2 linked regions of the Homo sapiens genome follow. The protein of the gene in region 2 interacts with the protein of the main gene of each other region in a biochemical or structural test. Each region holds a gene or a part of one and is shown on either strand. Other genes may lie near its edges.

Region 1 (3,813 bases), on a different chromosome or scaffold from region 2:
CCCATCCAAAACAGGATTTCAAATCCTGAGTAACTTTAGCCATTCAAAACCCTGCAATGGCTTCCTAACATATTCAAAATAAAATGCAAGCTCCCATGAGGCCTACATAGTCTGGCTCCGCTTATGTCTCTGACATCCATCCTACCATTCTCTGCCTCTCTCACTTTATGGCTTCACTTGCCTTCCTGTTGCTCTCCAAGCAAGCTATGCTTGTTCCTACCTCAGGTCTTTGCACTTAGGGTTCCCTCCGTATGGTACACTATTCCTCACGATCTCTGCATGGCTTGCACCTCATGTCTCTTAGGTCTCTACTCAAATGTTATCTCCTCTGAGAGACCTCCCTGACTAACTCTAATCTAAAACACTTGGCCAGTTGCCCTATATCCCACCTTATCCTGCCATCATTATATTCCTCCATGCTGCTTTAGGTTTTTCTTCATGGCATTTATTCCTAACTGACATTAATGTTACCTATTTACTTGTGAATTTCTTACCTCCCTGACTAGAACATAAACTTCATGATAACATCAGTATATCCCAGCACTTCGTATATGCTGTCTGAAAGAAGCTACTTACCGTTGTCAAAACACGCATAATTGTGTCTATATGCCATCGTTTGGAAGGTGCATACCTGAAAAAAACAATGGAAAGGGACACTTGGAACCAGTAAAATATACCGTTTTCAGTGACTAGAAAATCCTGCCCAAGCAGGGTGACTCACACCTGTCATCCCAACATCTTGGGAGGCCGAGGTGGGAGATCACCTGAGCTCAGGAGTTCGAGACCAGCCTGGGCAACACGGTGAAACTCCATCTCACCAAAAAATACAAAAATTAGCTGGGTGTGGTGGTGGGTGCCTGTAGTTCAGCTACTCTGGGAGGTTGAGGTAGGAGGATTGCCTGAGCCTAGGAGGTTGAGGCTACAGTGAGAAAGAAGAGAGAGAAAAGAAAGAGAAGAAACAGAAGAAAGAAAAGAAAGGGAAGAAAGAGAAGAGAAGAAAGAAAAGAAAGAAGGAAAGAAGATGGAAGGAAAGAAGGAAGGAAGGAAGGAAGGAACAAAAAAGAGAGAGAAAGAAAAGAAAGAAAAAGAAAGAAAGAAAGAAAGGAAGGAAAGGAAAAGAAAGGAAAAGAAAAGAGAAGAAAATCCTGTCCTACAGTCTTTTCTAGGTTCCCTGGATAAGTGAACATATCTGGAAACATTTCAACTTCAAATCTAGCAGCAAATGCCATTTCAAAGAGTGATAAAAAGGTATACAGTCAACTGACTTCAGTGGCTCATGCCTATAATCCCAGTACTTTGGGACGCCAAGGAGGAAGGAGTGCTTGAGGCCAGGAGTTCCACACAAACCTGGGTAACATAGCAAGACCCCATCTCTACAAAATAAAAATTAAAAAATTAGTGGCACATGATGATTTGCAGCTACAGTCCCAGCTACTCAGGAGGCTGAGGCAGAAGGATGGCTTAAGCCCAGAAGTCCAGGCTGCAGTAAGCTATGACTGGGCCACTGCCCTCCAGCCTGGGTGACAGAGCAAGACTCCGTTTCTAAAATTAAAGAAAAAAAAAAAAGAGGGTACATAGTCAAACTCAGATGTTTCCCATAAGATTGCAATAAGAGTTGCTAAGCTGAGAAATGAGATTTGTTTTCAGTTTCAGAGAAAATGAATCATTCAGTCAGGGCAGGAGACGATAAAGAAGAAAGAAGAAAAGGGACTGTTTTCAGACCAAGACAACATTTGGACTAAAAACTTGTTTCCTTAAATTCAGAGTGGAAAGAAGAGAAAGAATAGCTGTACTACTAAAATCATAAGGTACTTCCTCAAAATTCTGCATAGAGCTGCAATTCAGGTGCTGTAACTGTTCTATTGCCTTTATTAAAACAGCATCACAGGCCAGGTGTGGTGGCTGATGCCTGTAATCCTAGCACTTTGGGAGGCTGAGGCAGGCGAATCGCTTGAGTCCAGGAGTTCGAGACCAGCCTGGACAACATAGCGAAACCCCATCTCTACAAAAAGAAAAAAACAAACCCAGAAATTAGCAGGGTGTGGTGGCGTAAGCCTATGGTCCCAGCTACTTGGGGGGCTGAGGCAGGAGGATCCCCTGAACCTGGGAGGTCAAGGTTGCACTGAGCCGAGACTGTGCCACTGCACTCCAGCCTAGGTGACAAAGTGAGACCCTGTCTCAAAAAAACCCAAAACAAAAAAAACCAGCATCATAGATGAGAGGTTAAAGAACAGATAAAGGAGAAGATTTCATAAAAGTGTGAAATTTTTTTGGTCTCAGCATATTTAAATGCTGGCTATAATAGCCTTCTCCAAGCTAATTTATAATTGAGGGTTTGAAATAAATGTTATGTGTTTTAAACATATTTAAAGTAGTTTCCCCATTTTTTTTTTTTTGTTTTGTTTTTGAGATGGAGTCTTGCTCTGTCACCTAGGCTGGAGTGCAGTGGCATAACCTTGGCTCACTGCAACCTCCACCTCCCAGGTTCAAGTGATTCTCCTGCCTCAGCCTGCCGAGTAGCTGGGACTACAGGCGCGTGCCACCAGGCCCAACAAATTTTTGTATTTTTAGTGGCGACAGGGTTTCACTATGTTGGCCAGGCTGGTCTCGAACTCCTGACTTCATGATCCACCTGCCTTGGCCTCCCAAACTGCTGAGACTGCAGGCGTGTGCCACCGCGCCCAGCCCCCTCCCCATGTTTTAAAGACACTTCCAAAAGTTCCAAGCAGACTTTACCAATAAAGGTAAAAATTAAATCTTACTTTTCTGCAGCAAGAAAGATTCCAGATGCACAGTCTGCTTTAAATTCTGGCTCACACGAATCCAGAAAATAAAGTAATTCTTTCATCATGCCTCGGATATTATTCCCATTTACCAGGGCAAAACTCAATTCCATTGCACGCCTTGCAGAAGGGAAAAATTAAAAACAGTTAAGAAATTTATAGTGGAAATGAAACAAAGACCCAGGTATGCACTCTGTGAACACCAAGTACTGCCAGATGTGCTGACGTCCTTGCACGATCTTGTGATCCCAATCTTTGCACACGAAATAACCAAGGAGATGTATTCTTACATAATCAAAGTTAGTTTTGATATTTTGAATCTTCATGCAATATTCTTCTTCAAAAGTCCCTACGAGATATACCACTAATGTCCAAACATGCAGCTTGGGTTCAACAGGCTGTTCTACAAAGGTGGAAGTTAGAATACCTGAGAGTCTCAAAAAGAGGGGCAACAAATAAATGTATTACCCAATAATAATACCTATCTGCCTCATTCCTTAAAAATGTGACATGTTAAGTCACCATATTCTACTTTTATTACACCCCACTCTGTCCAAACATGATGTAATATAGTTTATGTCAAAAGGTATGCAGAAAATTCAAATTAAAAACAAATTCAAGGCCGAGCGTGGTGGCTCACACCTGTTTTCTCACCACTTTGGGAGGCCAAGGCAGGCGAATCACCTGAGGTCAGGAGTTTGAGACCAGCATGGCCAACATGGTGAAAGCACTTCTGTACTAAAAATACAAAAATTAGCCGGGCATGGTGGTGGGCGCCTGTAGTCCCAGGTACTAGGGAGGCTGAGGTAGGAGAATTGCTTGAACCCAGGAGACAGAGATTGCAGTGAAGTGAGGCACTCCAGCCTCGGAAACAGAGTGAGACTCTGTCTCAAAAAAAAAAAAAAAAAATTCAAAGGGAAAATGAGGGCCATGAGAAGGAAAAAAAAAATGGCATGTCCTAGGAGGACAAATAAGAGTTTCTATAACTGCCTATTCAAAGTTGGCAATGAAGTTAAAAATAGGAATGTTT
Region 2 (3,813 bases):
GTCATCTTCACTGTTTCCTCTCCTCCATGGTAGGAAATCACTGACCAGGACATGTTTGGAGATGCCAGCACGAGTCTGGTTGTGCCGGAGAAAGTCAAAACTCCCATGAAGTCCAGTAAAACGGATCTCCAGGGCTCTGCCTCCCCCAGGTACTGCAGATGGAAAGGAAGCAGGGGGTACAGCCTGCAGCTGTGCTTAGCATGGGCTTCAGGGCTGAGGGAAAGCGGGGCTGGCAGCAGCTTTGGGGTTGGAGGGGCTATTTCACCAGCCTTTTTCCACCTCCCTGGCAGCAAAGTGGAGGGGGTGCACACACCCCGGCAGAAGAGGAGCACGCCCCTGAAGGAGCGGCAGCTCTCCAAGCCCCTAAGTGAGAGGACCAACAGTTCCGACAGCGAGCGCTCCCCAGATCTGGGCCACAGCACGCAGGTACTTCTGGGTGCCCCCAAAACACCAGGACCCTCTGAGATTCCCTGAACTTCAGGCTCTGTTTTGTTGGCTTCCTTGGACAGTTAGTTGGAGAGAAGAGGAATACTTGGAAATGCTCTGAACAAAAACTCTTGAAGAAAGACTAAATTAGAGAGGTCTCCTATATTCCTTGCTTACTGCCAGTGTGGAACTGGCTTCCACGCTGACCTCTAGGGCGCAGGCAGGGGAGCCAAAAACGCTGTGTGGTCGTGGCCTGCCACGGCTGCGAGTGTCGATTCCACACCACCGGTGTCTCTGCCTCCATCAGACGTCAGTCTGGAGATTGTGCCGTGAATCCACTGTTGCAGAGGACAGCAGCCTCTGGATCTCATGGGACATCCTGACCCGAGCTCCCAACCTGAGTATTGCTGTGGGCGGTCATCGTGCTTTCAAGCCGGGAAGCCAACAATATTAAACTGTTTCAATGGAAGGACCCGAGAGTGGGCTGGAGAAGAAGTCAGAAGAACTGGGCCTCAGGAATCGTGTTCTCCTTTTGAAGGCCTGTGGTGTCAGAGATCTGGGACAGGGATTTTCCCGGCACACCTTACACAGTTCCAGTTCTGCTAGGGTTAAACAGCCAGCCTGTTCATTCCCCTGATAACTTACCAAGTGCATTGTCAGTGTGGCCTCCTGAGCTCCATGCTATTACATGGCTGAAAATGAACTTGAGACTAGAATAGCCCAGTGCCTGGGGTGAGGTATTGTCCTTCTTGTTAATCACTGTTCCTGAAATACCTTTTGTTCCCTCAGACAGCAGGTACCCACACAGCACTCATTGCCACTCTCATTATTTCTCTCCCCACTGCCCTCGTTTCTGTTTCTCTGAGCACCTGCTGGCCGCCCTCTGCCTCTCCCTTCCTGGTTCTTACGCTGCTGCCCCTCCTGCCACCCACACCGTTTCCCATCCGCGAGGCTTGCTGCACCTCCATCCTCTCCACCTGCCCTGGCAGGACAACCGCTGTGGCTTTGTTCCTCATCTCCATGTGTCCTCTAAGGACTCGCTTTGCTGCTTCTTTCTCCTCCTTTCCATCGTGGTCTGGCCAGTGGGAGACTGAGTCTCCCTCCCAAAGTCCTGATATCTGTTCTCTCTAACACCCCTGCTCCAGAGACTCCCCATGCACCAGTCCAGCAGCCCTGTCCTCAGGCTCCCCAGGGACTCCCTAACAAGAGACACTTTCTTTTGTTCCTGCAGATTCCAAGAAAGGTGGTGTATGACCAGCTCAATCAGATCCTGGTGTCAGATGCAGCCCTCCCAGAAAATGTCATTCTGGTGAACACCACTGACTGGCAGGGCCAGGTAAGTGCTGAAACTGCGAGGCCATGTGGGGTCCTGGAGGGCAGGCAATGCCCGGTTGCATTGTCAGTGTGGCCTCCATACTATTGCGTGGGGAGGTGGGGAACTCACCCCTCCATCAGCCCCCACCTGCTCTGAACTGAGCCCAGAACTCTGAGTTCTAGTCCAACTTCTGTCATTATCCAACTTGTGGGATCTTAAATCACTAAGTTTGCTCTACCTCAGCTTCCTCATACGTTAAAAAACAAACAAACAAAAAGCAACAGTAATTCCTCCAGGGCGCCACATGCGTCAGGCAGCATAGTGGAACGGAGGCCTGTAGAGAAGCACCCGGCTGTAACCTCCAGGGCTGCCCCATGAAGGCAGGTCAGCAAGGCAGAGCATCCCTGCCTGCTCCCTCACCGCTGTCCACCTGGCTTAGACACTGGTGCCGGGGACACCTGGAGTGTCCTAGCATGTGAAACCCCCTAAGGCTTCCCATCTCTCACACTCTGCGTGTCTCGTGGGTCGGCCCCACCCCCTCCTTACTGGCAGTCCGGAGACCTGGCTGCCTTTGCCCAGCTTCGGTCTGAACTGCAGAGGACAGGGGCCCTGCAGCTCGGTCTGGGTCTCACTTGCCTCTTGGCCCTTGTGAAGGAGTGATGTGTTCTCACCTGTGTCCCTGCTCTCCTCCCTCCCTATCCCAGTATGTGGCTGAGCTGCTCCAGGACCAGCGGAAGCCTGTGGTGTGCACCTGCTCCACCGTGGAGGTCCAGGCCGTGCTGTCCGCCCTGCTCACCCGGATCCAGCGCTAGTAAGGGCTCTGGCCTCCCTTCTCCTGCCCTTAGAGATTCCCTCTGACCTCATCTTCCAACCCTGACTTCTAAGCAATGATAGACCCTCCTGGCCTCATCAGACCAAGAATTTGCAGAGGGGCGTATGTTTAGGGGGGTGGCGGCAGCAGGCTGTAGGGCTTGAGGCCCCGGCAGACCCCAGAGGATCGGGGGTGGAAATATCAATTCCTGTGCTCCCTGCCTCCCTGCCTGGACCCCCGCCATGCCTTGACTTGCTTTATCCTCTTAAACCCATGATGAAGGAGAGGACACACTGGTTTTAAAAAGATCTTTTATTCCTTCCATCTGCAACATGCTGCTAGACACTCAGGAGTCAGTGCTTCCCCTACCCTCAGGGCCTTCTTAAAAGGCCCAAGTCCCTTGCCCTTGTGAAAGAGAACTATGGATTCCAGGCCTGGGGGCACACACCCTGCGGGCATCCCAGGCACACTGCCGAGTCCTACGTTAGCCTCAGCTGTTCCGTCTGCTTCATGGGCAATGCCCTCTGACCCTGGATTTTTCTCTTGGTTGTGAAAGCACTGTGGCTTATTCCCTGTATGATCCTCTCTGTTTTATTTTGTGGATTGGTTTGCTTTTCCCCTGTGGGTTGTTGAGATCACAGAAAGTCAGCTCTGGGCCTCCCCCGGGCAGGATCCTGGCACCCCTGAGCACTGCTATGACGCTCCCCTTCCTCCCCAGCTGCAACTGCAACTCTTCCATGCCGAGGCCAGTGAAGGTGGCTGCTGTGGGAGGCCAGAGCTACCTGAGCTCCATCCTCAGGTTCTTTGTCAAGTCCCTGGCCAACAAGACCTCCGACTGGCTTGGCTACATGCGCTTCCTCATCATCCCCCTCGGTAAAGACGGGAGGCACCAGGAGGGCGTCGGGCATGAGGGTTCCATAGACAGATGCCTCATCTGGAACAGGACGGTGGGGTTGGGGCCTAGGAAGGGACAGTCAAGGAGACCAAGGCCGTGGCCAGGGACAGCTGCTCCCACACTGTCTCATCTCCTGACGAATTCACCACCTCTGGTTTTCCATCTACCAGGTTCTCACCCTGTGGCCAAATACTTGGGGTCAGTCGACAGTAAATACAGTAGTTCCTTCCTGGATTCTGGTTGGAGAGATCTGTTCAGTCGCTCGGAGCCACCAGTGTCAGGTAATGGCCCCGTGTAAGGAGCTTACTCCCACCCCCGGGGTCCACAGGTGCCAGCCTGGCTGCAGAAGGAGGCTGAGGTCATGCT

What was found.
Region 1: the proteins of PACS1 (region 2) and AP1G1 form a complex in vitro, tested with the Homo sapiens proteins (one study listed by IntAct).

Annotation. Positions count from the first base shown.
Region 1 is NC_000016.10:71,753,257-71,757,069, forward strand, and holds part of AP1G1 (AP-1 complex subunit gamma-1), read right to left. Parts: intron 2,904-3,813; coding exon 2,763-2,903; intron 632-2,762; coding exon 577-631; intron 1-576. UniProt on the Homo sapiens protein: Subunit of clathrin-associated adaptor protein complex 1 that plays a role in protein sorting in the late-Golgi/trans-Golgi network (TGN) and/or endosomes.
Region 2 is NC_000011.10:66,230,515-66,234,327, forward strand, and holds part of PACS1 (phosphofurin acidic cluster sorting protein 1), read left to right. Parts: intron 1-33; coding exon 34-149; intron 150-290; coding exon 291-426; intron 427-1,657; coding exon 1,658-1,762; intron 1,763-2,445; coding exon 2,446-2,552; intron 2,553-3,270; coding exon 3,271-3,425; intron 3,426-3,617; coding exon 3,618-3,728; intron 3,729-3,813. UniProt on the Homo sapiens protein: Coat protein that is involved in the localization of trans-Golgi network (TGN) membrane proteins that contain acidic cluster sorting motifs.